3 separate regions of the Homo sapiens genome follow, and regions 1 and 3 are each linked to region 2. The links come from fine-mapping of genetic effects on gene expression. A gene starts in region 2. Each other region holds a variant in brackets. All regions are shown on one strand. Distances are from middle to middle. Region 1 overlaps RPA1 (replication protein A1). Region 2 holds the start of RPA1 (replication protein A1). Region 3 overlaps SMYD4 (SET and MYND domain containing 4).

Region 1 (4,239 bases), 65 kb after region 2:
TAAAACATAAGGAAGACCAATAAAAGCTATGTTTTCTGGGCCACATAAATGGGCACCTTTCTGTAGATGGCTTTTCCCCCGATTTCCTCCAAATTGGTTGGAATACTTGTAAAGGCCACAAAGATGAAAGGCTTTGCCATTTGTTCTGGTGTGTTTTTCTTTTTCTTCCTGTCCCCAGTTCTGTCTGTTTGGGCTCTGCCCTGACTCTTTTTTTAAATTGTCCATGAGAGCTCTCAAAATAGTCTCAACAAATCCTGTTACAGAAATAACTAGAATTGACTTTAAAGTGTGATAGTATCTTTTGTCTGTTTTTACCTGGTCTTCAATTTTCGTATCAGATTTTAAGGCCCGAGTAAGCCTTTCAGGATTTTTATGAGCTTATTATATTTGACTGTTTTTTCTGCCGGTGAATGAGGACATATAGAAACTTCCCCGAGGAACCGTGAGATCCTGGAGTTCGCACTCCACGCCCCTCATCTTGGAAGCATAATGGCAGCCGGTGTAATTTTCTCAAGCTTTAACCCATTGTTTTATTTTCATATCTGAAAGTCCATTTGGTTTGGGTTTGGGTTTTGATCAAGTAACCTTTACAGAAAAGAGTTCTGTATAGCAAAGCTGCTTTCACGCCGTGCGTGACTTGCAAAAAACACTAGGTTGGTGTGAACTATTAATTAGTTTTTCTTTTTTTTTGTCAAAGGTCTCAATCAACTCTGTTAATATAGTTATTACACATTTATTTATGCATCTTTATACAAACTATATTCTCTAATTCTTGTCTGTTTACCAGACTTTTTTTTTTTTAATAAACTTAAATTGCATTTGAGGAGTGAGAGAGGGAAAAGGATTGTTTTTAGGCCTTCCCTAGCCTTTGCGCACCTCAACAGTCTTCTCTGCTTGCACACCAAATCAGTAGCTATAAATACAGAGGCTGAAATCACGAATTATATTGAACTTTCTTCTGAGTGTTTTTCCTTTTTTTCTTTTTTTTGAGACAAGGTCTTGCCTCATCACCCATGTTGGAGCGCCGTGGTGTGCGATCATGGCTCACTGCAGCTTCAAACTCTTGGGCTCAGACAGTCCTGCCACCTCAGTCTCCTGAGTAGCTGGGACTACTGGTACACGCCACCATACCTGGCTTAAGTTTTTTTTTTTTTTTTTTTGGTAGAGATGGGGTTTTGCTATGTTCCCCAGGCTATTCTTGAACTCCTGGCCTCAAGCAGTCCTCCCACCTCGGTCTCCCAAAACATTGGGATTATAGTCACGCGCCACCATACCTGACCTCCTAATTTTTTTTTTTTTTGAGAGTCTCGCTCCATAGCCCATGCTGGAGTGCAGTAGTGCAGTCTCAGCTCACTGTAGCCTCCGCCTCTCAGGTCGAAGCAATTCTTCTGCCTCAGCCTCCCTAGTACCTGGGATTACAGGCACCTGCCACTATGCCCAGCTAATTTTTGTGTTTTTAGTAGAGATGGGGTTTCACCGTGTTGGCCAGGCTGGTCTTGAACTCCCAACCTCAAGTGATCCACCCGCTTCCGCTTCCCAAAGCGCTGGGATGACAGGTATGAGCCACCGTGCCCAGCCTTAAAGTCTTAGAAACTTCCTAAGAGCGTTTTTAATTTTTTGTGTCTAGTAAAGCATACATAACCAAATTTGCCTTTGTAACCATTTTTACGTGTACAGTTTAGTGGCGTTAGGTACATTCACATTACT[G/A]TGCCCCTGTCACCACCATCCTTTTCCAGTACTTTTTTAAATAGGCAAATTCATAGAGACAGACGACAGCCTTGTGTTTTCCAAGGATGGAGGGAAGGGGAGAATGGAGACACACTGTTCATGGGTGGCGATTTGAAACTCTGCACATTAAGCAATAGCTCCTTTTCCAAAACCCTCTTCTCCCTGGCCCTGACAACTGCCATTCTACCTTCTATGAATGTGATTAGTGTTTTAATTTTCAATAAGATTCTACTTAAAACAGTTTCATGTAATGTTACCTGTAGATGAGTCATTCCTAAGTAATTTGAAACTACCCAGGAGATGCATTTTCAGAAGTCTTTTTAAAAGTCTTATCAGTATTTGCAAGTTGTCCAGTGGTTTCCATGTGTCAAGTTTTATGTTTGTTTTTGCAGAATGAACAGGCATTTGAAGAAGTTTTCCAGAATGCCAACTTCCGATCTTTCATATTCAGAGTCAGGGTCAAAGTGGAGACCTACAACGTAAGTAAGGGCCTGGGCAGCAGGGTTGGTGGTGGGGAGGTGCTGTTTGTCACCTACGGCAGTGTCGTGACACTCCCTGGCAGGGAGTTACTGTACTCACTGCCAGACCCCGGTGCTGACTTTGCCCAACACAGGTGCTGTTATGATCCCCATTTTCAGATGAGGAAGGAGAGAGAGCTTAAGTGTCTTGTCGAAACAATGGCGGGGGGGTGGGGAATACAATATGGATTTTTTTGTTTGTTTATTTTTTTTATTTTTATTTTTTTTCAGTTAAATCCTAGGATTTTTTCGTCTGTGTTCTGACAAAAAAATTATAACGCATGCAGTAGAGTCATATCTTTGACAAATTTAGATTGTAGAAAAGTATATTAAGTATATGAGCCGGGCGTGGTGGTGTGTGCCTGTGGTCCCAGCTACTTGGGAGACTGAGGCAGCAGTTCAAGGCCAGCCTGGGTAACATAGTGAAACCCCGTTTCTAAGTCAGTCAGTCAGTATATGAAACAAAGGCCACGTGTGGTTAAAACTACCTTGAAAATTCCTGAAATTGCCCATAATACCATATAGTATTTATTTATTTATTTATTTATTTATTTATTTATTTATTTATTTGAGACAGAGTCTCTGTCACCCAGGCTGGAGTGCAGTGGGACGATCTTGGCTCACCACAACCTCCGCCTCCCGGGTTCAAGTGATTCTCCTGCCTTAGCCCCTCGAGTAGCTGGGATTACAGGCGCCCGCCACCATGCCCGGCTAATTTTTGTATTTTTAGTAGAGACGGAGTTTTCACCATGTTGGCCAGGCTGGTCTCGAACTCCTGACCTCAGATGATCCACCCGCCTCAGCCTCCCAAAGTGCCAGGATTACAGGCATGAGCCACCGCGCCCAGCTTAGTTATAGTTATAATCAAACAGTATTGAGCATGGTCTGCCAGGTAACTGTTCTACATCCTTTACGTGGAACATCTCACTTGAGCCTAGTAACCCTATATGTAGAAACTGTGGTTACCCTATTTTGCCACTGAAGGAATTACATACAGAGAGACACGGGCATTCAGAGAACAAGTCACTTGCCTAAGTTGTATGCTAGCAAGTGGTCGAGCTAACGTCCAACCCAGGCAGCCTGACTTCAGAGCTTTGCTTTTGATCATGCTTACGAGTATCACGGGATTTAGTACCGACCAAGCACACAGCAGTGTGACAGCCCCGAGCTCGCCTGTGCAGCCTTCCTGGGTATCACTCCGTTCTGCCCGGAAAGGCACCATTCAGGCCGTGAGTGTAAACGTACGAGTGGGCAGGGGGAGTGGTAGAAACGCCCCTGCTGATTGCAGGGTTTACTCACGTATTTACCTTAACGCCCGTTCTTCTGCGACTACTATAAACATTAAATGAGATAGGGGATCAGATGTCACCGTGAAACAATGTCAGGGAGTGGGGTGGGGCTGGGGGGGATTTTTGGGGCCATTCAGCCCCATCGTGTCTGGACAGGGAAGGTGAAGTGAAGAGAGGCTGCCTCCCCAGAGCTGAGACAGGACAGACTCGGTCCTCTCCCTCTGCTGCAGGTGCTCTTCCTTTCACCACTCAGCTTTTCTTGAAATGAAAGTTTGAAAGTTTAGCTTTCAGAACTAGCTGTGTGGCTTTGTGCAAGTCACATGTCCTCTCTGGGCTGTATCCCCTGCAGTAGGGAGAATAAATGAAACTAGAGAAACCCTCTAAAGTCCATCTCACTAGGATTCTAGGCTTCTGGGTGTTTGGGAGCTTGGGTAAAGAATCAGAAGGGCCTGTGCTGGAGAAAGGACCTGTTCACTCGCCCAGCCCCAGACATTCAGGAGGAGGCTGTCACTCACTGGAATGACTGAACTCTGAACCCGTGCGTCTGTTCCCTCCCGCTGGGCTCACTGAAACCACTGAAGCAAAAGGGGTTTCACTGCTCCACACCACACTTTCACTGCTCACAAACTACTTCTCCCTTTTTGAAGGACGAGTCTCGAATTAAGGCCACTGTGATGGACGTGAAGCCCGTGGACTACAGAGAG
Region 2 (4,239 bases):
ATTTCATTCAAGGAAGCCTGAAACAATAAAATCAATTCTTGTGGTCTTTTCCTCTAGTTTATATGCTAAGGAAGGATCTATATTTTCTCACAGCAATTCACTCAACATCCTTCCATTCAGAAATATTTACTGAAAGACTACTTTGTCACAGGCACCATGCAGGTGATGGTTATACAAAGACGAAGCAGACTAGATAGCTACCATCTGTGCTCTTAGATCCTCTTTTTTTTTTTTTTGTGAGGCAGAGTCTTGCTCTGTCACCCAGGCTGGAGTGCAGTGGCACCATCTCGGCTCACTGCACCCTCCGCCTCCCAGGTTCAAGCAATTCTCCTGCCTCAGCCTCCGAGTAGCTGGGATTACAGATGCGCGCAACTACGCCCGGCTAATTTTTGTATTTTTAGTAGAGACGGGGTTTCACCATGTTGGCCAGGCTGGTCTCGAACTCCTGACCTCAGATGATCCGCCAGCCTTGGCCTCCCAAAGCGCTGGGATTACAGGCGTGAGCCACCGCGCCCGGCCTGATCCCTCTCTAGTTTCTCTGAGACACATCCCAGATTTTTCTTTCTCACCCACCCCAGCAACTATTCATTTAACAAGGTATTTCCCTCTCTTACATAGTTCAGCGTTCTGATTAAGTCCTCACCATCTCGTCTGGCATTCTTCCTAGAGTGTTATAATTAATGTCCATGCCATTGGCACCACTCCCCACTTTCAATCCAGCCTCCAACACTGAGACAGAAGTCAGTGCTCTGCCCTTAAATTCATCAACGCTACTCCAAGCATACCAGGAAGCCCAGGACAAAACCATCCTTACTTGACCCTTGTCTGACTTTCTAATTCTCAGGTGTCACTTACTCCTCTGCATGCACCCTTGCATACTGAACAACTCATTGCTATCCCCGGCTTGCCAGGCTATTTCAACTCTCCAATGTTTTGGCATAGGCTACTCATGCTTTCCGGACCAACCCTACCCTGGCTTATGGAGTCCACCTGGAAAATTCCCACACGTTCTTCGACTCGGCTCAAATGGCACCTCCTCCGGGACGGCGTCCCTGATTTCCCAGCTGTGATTCCAACACCCTTGGGGCCTGTACCACGTCTACCTGGAGGTGGGGTTACTGACGGCATAAAGTGCCCCCACACACTGTCCTCTTCTCTAAGGACGGGGGCCGGGTCTGATTCCCTTTCGGAGACCCCCCACCCCCACCCCCCACCGCCACGGTGCCAAGCTCAGGGCTTGGAGGCGGGAAGTCAGCCCCGCGTTGCTGGACGAATCGGGTCACTACTGCGACTCTATTTAGCAGCGGAGGTCTCAAGGAACAGCTTTAACCTCCTCTGGGATACCAACCCGTGCACTCGCCAGAGACCGAGGCGAGAACGCCTCGAGAACCGCTCAGACGCGCCCGGAACTGCGCCCTGGTCTCCCTCCCAGCGCCCGCGCAGCTCCTGGCGCGCCCCTTGGCGCCCCGCTCCGCCCCGCACCGCGTCCGGCGTCCCGCGCCAGGCCTCGCTTGGGACCATGGGTGGGTCACGTGGGCCGCGCCTCGGCCAATGCGGCGGCTGCGTAGCGCCCGGGCCCGCCCCTGAGCCGCGCGCACGTCGGGGGCGGGAGCGGTGCGCGCAACTTCTCGGGCCAATAACTGCGCAGCGCGCGGGACCCGGGTGGGGAAGCTGGAGCTGTTGCGGGGTCCGCGGGGAAGTCTTGGCGGTGGAGCCATGGTCGGCCAACTGAGCGAGGGGGCCATTGCGGTGAGGAGGTGCCGGGGGCTGGGCCGGCGGTCCGGGGTGGCTGCGGCCCCGAGCCTCGCGGAGTAGAGAGGGGGAGGGGAGCCCGGGGCGACGGGGGATGAACGCGAGGGGAGGAGATGGCGGGGGGCGGTGGGGACCCGCCGGGCGTCCCTCTAGTGTCATCGCCCCCTCCTCAAAGCATTCTTTCGATCGTCTTTAAAACATGCTCACATTTTTCCTACGTAAGAACAAACTAAATAAACGCTTGCCTTTCTCTGCATCTTCCACCTGCGGACACTTTCTGTCTCTTCTCCTTTCCCCACCCACAGCCAAACTTCTTGTCTGGTTTCAGCCACTTCCTTTCCTCGCCTTTCATCAACTCTTTAACCCACTCCAGTCATCCCTTTGATCGCTGTAGAAAACCCTGGCTGAAGGTACCAGTGGCCTCCAAGTTGCTAAATCCAGCCCTTTTCCGTTTTCAGCTTACCTGAGTTCTCAGCAGCGTTTGCGTTTAAGCCCTGCTTGCTTCAGGTCACACCCTCTTCCTTGGTTTTTAGTGGCTCAGCTTGGCAGGTCTATCCCCGTCTTATTTGTAAGTCCCTCTTTGTAAATTTTTGTTGAATCAAGGCTCCCTCTAGGCCCTCTTGACTCCCGAGGCAATTTCTTTTTTTTTCTCCAGCCTGGGCGACACTCACTGTCGCCCAGGCTGGAGTGCAGAGGCGCGATCTCGGCTCACTGCAACCTCCGTCTCCCGGGTGCAAGTGAGTCTCCTGTCTCAGCCTCCCGAGTAGCTGGGACTACATGTGTGCGCCACCACACTCGGCTACTTTTTGTGTTTTTATTAGAGACTGGGTTTCATCATGTTGGCCAGGCTGATCTCGAACACCAGACCTCAAGTTATCCGCCCGCCTCGGCCTCCCAAAATGCTGGAATTACAGGCATGAACCACCGCGCCTGGCCCCAAGGCAATTCCATTGCCATCTATTAATATATGTCAGTTGCTCACAAATTTCTTTGTACAGAGCCACCTTTACTCTAAAAGACAAACTTCCGTCATCTGTCTGCTTATTCCATGCTTCAGAGGGTTTTAAGTTCAGTATACGTATCCCAAAGCAAATTCTTTATCTTTCTAAGTCTGGGCCTCTTGATCCCTATCTCCACGGATGGCACCATTATCTATTCAGTTCAGTGCTAACCAGAAATTGAGAAATCATTCCTCCTATATTGTCCATTACCTGGGCATCCAGTCCCTCACGAAGTGAAGTGTATTTTGCCTCTGCGTAGATCTATCAAGCCCACTGGCTTCTCTCCATCCATACTGGCACCGTCTTTTTTTTTGCCTGAGCTGCTGACTTCCACTCAGCATACGTTCCTGCCACCATTCCCATCCACAGCATACTCTCAGCCTACCTCTCCAGTCACCCCCACATTTTTTTTTAAATTTAGATTTCTGGTATATTCCATACTCCTACCTTCTTCCATGGGGCCTTTGAACTTTTTTTTTTTTTTTTGAGCTGGAATCTTGCTCTGTTGCCCAGGCTGGAGGGCAGTGGCGCGATCTCGGCTCACTGCAAGCTCTGCCTCCTGGGTTCACGCCATTCTCCTGTCTCAGCCTCCCGAATAGCTGGGACTACAGGTACCCGCCACCACGCCCGGCTAATTTTTTGTATTTTTTAGTAGAGACGGGGTTTCACCGTGTTAGCCAGGATGGTCTCGATCTCCTGACCTTGTGATTCGCCCGCCTCGGCCTCCCAAAGTGTTGGGGTTACAGGCGTGAGCCACTGTGCCCGGCCTTTTTTTTTTTTTTTTTTTTTTTTTTGAGGCAGAGTCTCACTCTTTCTCCCCATACCCCCCCACTACCGCCCCAGGCTGGAGTGCGGTGGCGCAATCTCGGCTCACTGCAACCTCTGCCTTCTGGGTTCAGGCAGTTCTCGTGCCTCTGCCTCCAGAGTAGCTGGGATTACAGGCATGTACCACCACACCTGCGTAATTTTTTGTATTTTTAGTAGACACGGGGGTTTCACCATGTTGCCCAGGCTGGTCTTGAACTCCCAACCTTAGGTGATCCACCCTCCTCGGCCTCCCAAAGTGCTGGGATTACAGAAGTGAGCCACCGCACCCGGCCCTGAACATTTTTTTCCCTCTGCCCACTGCCTGGGTGGTTCTTCACTCTTCCCCACACTGGCAAACACTATCTTCGTATCTCAGCTCATTTGTGACTTCCCTTACTAGGCTAAATCCCTTTGAGACCCCAATTCCTGTTCATTCACTTATTGAATTATTTATTTTTTTTCTTTTTGAGATGGAGTCTTGCTCTGTTGCCCAGGCTGGAGTGCAGTGGCACGATCTTGACTCACTGCAACCTCCGCCTCCTGGGTTCAAGCAATTCTCCTCCCTCAGCCTCCCAGGTAGCTGAGAATACAGGAGACTGCCATGATGCCCGGCTAATTTTTGTATTTTTAGTAGAGATGGGGTTTCACCATGTTGGCCAGGCTGGTCTCGAACTCCTGA
Region 3 (4,239 bases), 39 kb before region 2:
GGTGGATCACCTGAGGTCAGAAGTTCGAGAGTAGCCTGGCCAAAATGGCAAAACCCTGTCTCTACTAAAAACACAAAAATTAGCTGGGCATGGTGGCATGCGCCTGTAGTCCCAGCTACTCGGGAGGCGAGGTACGAGAATTGCTTGAATCCAGGAGGAGGAGGTTGCAGTGAGCCCAGATCACACTGCTGCACTCCAGCCTGGGTGACAGAGCAAAACTGTCTCGCAAAACAAAAAAAACAAATTCACCAAAGAAATAGTCTAGGTACAAATGTAATGGATAAAGAAAATATTATGAACCATTATGTGAAAATGTTTTATAGGCCAGGTGCAGAGGCTCACGCCTGTAATCCCAGCACTTTGGGAGGCCAAGGCGGGCAGATCACTTGAGGTCAGGAGTTCAACACCAGCTTGGCCAACATGGTGAACCCTCGTCTCTACCAAAAATATAAAAACTTAGCTGAGCGTGGTGGCGTGCACCAGTAATCCCTGCTACTCGGGAGGCTGAAGCAGGAGAATCGCTTGAAACTGGGAGGTGGAGGTTGCAGTGAGCCGAGATCGCACCACTGCACTCCAGCCTGGGTGAAAGAGCGAGACTCTGTCTCAAAAAAAAAAAAAAAGTTTTATAAAGGAAAACACTGAATATAGGAATAATGTTGTCAATTTTGTTGTCAATTTTACTATCTGTTGCTAAGGAGAACAAGAATAGAACAAGTAAATACATTTTGCAGGGAATCCAAATGACTCAATTCTAGTTAATAATTCTACAAATTGTATTAAAATCTTTCATCAGAGCTTCTCCTAAGTGCTTCGCTGATTTTTGTTTCTTCTTCTCCCCCTTGTCCGGTGCCCACCTTCTGGTATATGTGCTAATGAGCAGTGAAAATGCTAAAAGGCAGGTGGCAGGAAGGAGCCGTCCAGGGCATGAACAATTTGTCGTCTGAATAATCAGCCTCTGCATAATTAAAAGTGGACTTGCATTGCCAACTACTGATAACTGGCAATCTATATTAGAACCATTGCTAAAATTTTCCAGAAAAGAATGATCACACTACAGTGAGTAATGTCAGCTTTGTGAATTATTTATAGATTACCCTCTGACAGAAGTAGGCCCAGGAACCGTGTGGGTATTTATGTCAGAGTTGAATAGCTCTCTAATTATTTCTAAAAAATTAAGTATTGATTTTTAAAAATTACTCAGTATTGTGCATTAATCATCTATTAGTAGAGATAATAGAAAGTGAGAATATGTATGTAGTTCCTCAACCAAATTTAATCTGTGACATTTTGTATTAAAATAAAGAGGGAGTGATTCTATACCAAAACAGTACCTTGCTAATATCCCTAGTGCATTTCTTTTTATTTATTTATTTTTCAGATGTAGTCTCACTCTGTCGCCTAGGCTGGAATGCAGTGGCATGATCTCATCTCACTGCAACCTCCGCCTCCTGGGTTCAAGCGATTCTCCTGCCTCAGCCTCCTGAGTAGCTGGGATTACAGGCGCCCATCACCACACTCAGCTCATTTTTGTATTTTTAGTAGAAGACAGGTTTCAGCATGTTAGTCAGGCTAGTCTCGAACTTCTGACCTCGTGATCCACCCACCTTGGCCTCCCAAAGTGCTGGCTAAGCCATGCCCATCCCTGGTGCATTTAAACTGGGATTCAAGTAAAGAAAAAAGATTCATGC[C/T]GGGCGCGGTGGCTCACGCCTGTAATCCCAGCACTTTGGGAGGCCCAGGCGGGTGGATCACGAGGTCAGGAGATCGAGACCTTCCTGGCTAACACGGCGAAACCCCGTCTCTACTAAAAATACAAAAAAATTAGCCGGGCATGGTGGTGGGCGCCTGTAGTCCCAGCTACTCGGGAGGCTGAGGCAGGAGAACGGAGTGAACCCGGGAGGTGGAGCTTGCAGTGAGCCGAGATCGCGCCACTGCACTCCAGCCTGGGCTGGCCCGTCTCAAAAAAAAAAAAAAAAAAAAAAGATAGATTCCTTCAATGCTGAAGAGTGAAAGCAATGGGCAGTGAATTGATGGGAAGTGACAGGACACAGAACCCCAATAAAATCTTGTTATGACAGGAATCCGGATAGATCATAAATATGCCATTCCCACTGAGACAGAACCACACGTGTCACGGTCTAGAAAATCATCAGTGGCCAGTTCTGTCCCTTGAGATAAGCCCTAGTGAGAGGTTTCTGGGGAACTTTGATTAAACAGGATTTATGCAAAGATAATAACATACATTTTTATAGGTTTTTGTCAAAGTCTATCCTAGTTAACACTTTAATCCTTTGCCTGTACTACTAATGAAACAGCTGCTAATGAAATTCAATGAGAACACTAAATTGAGAGGGATTGGAACCCCAAAGAAATAATAAAAAGGGATATAACAAGATTAGAAATATGAGCAGACTAAAAGAAAATGAGATGAAATTTAACAATGAAAGTGAACCTTGCTGGTGGGCGCGTCAGTGGAACTTTCCTGGAGGGCAATTTTGCAAGCTGTATCAAGTGCCTTAAAAATGTTCATAGAAAAGTACTCTTATCATTTGAATTATCTTTATTATTAAAAAAACTAACTGAGGCTGGGCGCAGTGGCTCACGCCTGTAATCCCAGCACTTTGGGAGGCAGAGGTGGGAGGATCGCTTGAGCCCAGGAGTTTGAGGTTACAGTGAGCTACGATCGCCCCACTGCACTCCAGCCTAAGTGACAGAGTGAGACCCTGTCTCAAAAACAAACAAAAAACCACTAATTGAAATTACAAAAGGAATACGTGGTAGTCAGAAAAAAATTTAAAAATTGAACATTACAGAGAAAATGACAGTTGCTTGTAATGCCATCAGGCAGATATAACATGTTATCTTTAAATCCTAACCTAAAATACATTTTTTTTTTTTTTGAGACGGGGTCTCGCTCTGTCGCCCAGGCTGGAGTGAGTGCAGGGGCGCGATCGCGGCTCAGTGCAAGCTCCGCCTCCTGGGTTCACACCATTCTCCTGCCTCAGCCTCCAGAGTAGCTGGGACTACAGGCGCCCGCAACCACGCCCGGCTAATTTTTTGTATTTTTAGTAGAGACGGGGTTTCACGTTAGCCAGGATGGTCTCGATCTCCTGACCTCGTGATCCTCCCACCTCGGCCTCCTCAAGTGCTGAGATTACAGGCTTGAGCCACCACGCCTGGCCTAAAATGCATTTTAGAATTAAAAATACAGGTCGGGCACGGTGGCTCACCCCTGTAATCCCAGCACTTTGGGAGGCCAAGGTGGGCGGATCACGAGGTCAGGAGATGGAGACCACCTTGCTAACACGGTGAAACCCTGTCTCTACTAAACATACAAAAGTTAGCCCGGTGTGGTGCACACCTGAGCCCAGCTACTTGGGTGCCTGAGGAGGGAGGATCAGTTGAACCCTGGAGGTCGAGGCTTCAGTGAGCTGAGATCACGCCGCTGCACTCCAGCCTGGGCAACAGACAGAGGCCCTGTCTCAAAAAACAAAAACAAAACCAGTAAAACAACTCTGCTGCCGTGACAGGCCAACAAAGGTATCTGGTTTTAATTACTAGAGAGGTTAGAGAGTGACCGTTTTTACTTATCACTATCTACTTCGATACAGTGCTTGCTCACGTGTGCTTTCAACAGCTGTACTGAGATAGAATCCATCTACCGTAAAATTCACTTAAGTGTACGATTCAGTGCTTTTTTGGGGGGAAATTTATAAGATTGGGCAAACAGTACCACAACCCGGCTTTAGATTTTCATCATTATGCATGTTTTTATTTTTATCTTGCTATTTTTTAGACAGGGTCTCACTCTGTTGCAATGGGGTGATCTCAGCTCACGGCGGCCTCGACCTCCTGGGCCCGAGCCGCTGTCCCACCTCAGACTCCCGGGTAGCTGAGACCACAAGCGCGCACCACCACACTCAGCTAATTTTTGTATTTTTGTAGACACAGAGTTTAGCCATGTTGCCCCGGGTGGTCTCTAACTCGTGGGCTCAAGTAATCCTCCTGCCTCAGCCTTCCAAAGTGCTGGGATTATAGGTGTGAGCCACTGTGCCTGGCCGCTATGCATATTTTTAAAAGTTGATTTTAAGAGCTGTATAGTTGCTAGAGATATTCCCTCATTTTGTCCATTTACATCTAATTTTTGTTTATGAGGTTTTTTTGGGGGGATTGTTAAAACAATGACAATTTCACTTGTTCACAATTCTGTACCCCGGCAGTTTTGGCTCAGCTGAGTATTTT

What was found. PIP is the estimated chance that this variant, and not a neighbour inherited with it, causes the effect. A credible set is the group of variants that fine-mapping cannot tell apart.
Region 1: its variant is the best candidate, but not a certain one, in a credible set for the expression of RPA1 in whole blood (INTERVAL, PIP 0.54).
Region 3: its variant is the best candidate, but not a certain one, in a credible set for the expression of RPA1 in monocytes (TOPMed, PIP 0.52).

What each region holds. Positions count from the first base shown.
Region 1 is chr17:1,892,889-1,897,127 of GRCh38, forward strand. It overlaps RPA1 (replication protein A1), which reads left to right. Exons shown (of 17, transcript NM_002945.5): 16 at 2,121-2,207; 17 at 4,183-4,239. Among named protein-coding and RNA genes, the nearest start is that of RPA1, 65 kb to the left of the region's middle. The variant G/A (reference allele first, on the strand shown) is at 1,708.
Region 2 is chr17:1,828,378-1,832,616 of GRCh38, forward strand. It overlaps RPA1 (replication protein A1), which reads left to right and starts at 1,628. Exons shown (of 17, transcript NM_002945.5): 1 at 1,628-1,749. The coding sequence starts at 1,717. It overlaps SMYD4 (SET and MYND domain containing 4), which reads right to left and starts at 1,525. Exons shown (of 11, transcript NM_052928.3): 1 at 1,349-1,525. RefSeq lists a silencer at 1,377-1,896 and an enhancer at 2,524-3,024.
Region 3 is chr17:1,789,160-1,793,398 of GRCh38, forward strand. All of the region lies in intron 5 of SMYD4 (SET and MYND domain containing 4), which reads right to left. Among named protein-coding and RNA genes, the nearest start is that of SERPINF1, 29 kb to the left of the region's middle. The variant C/T (reference allele first, on the strand shown) is at 1,689.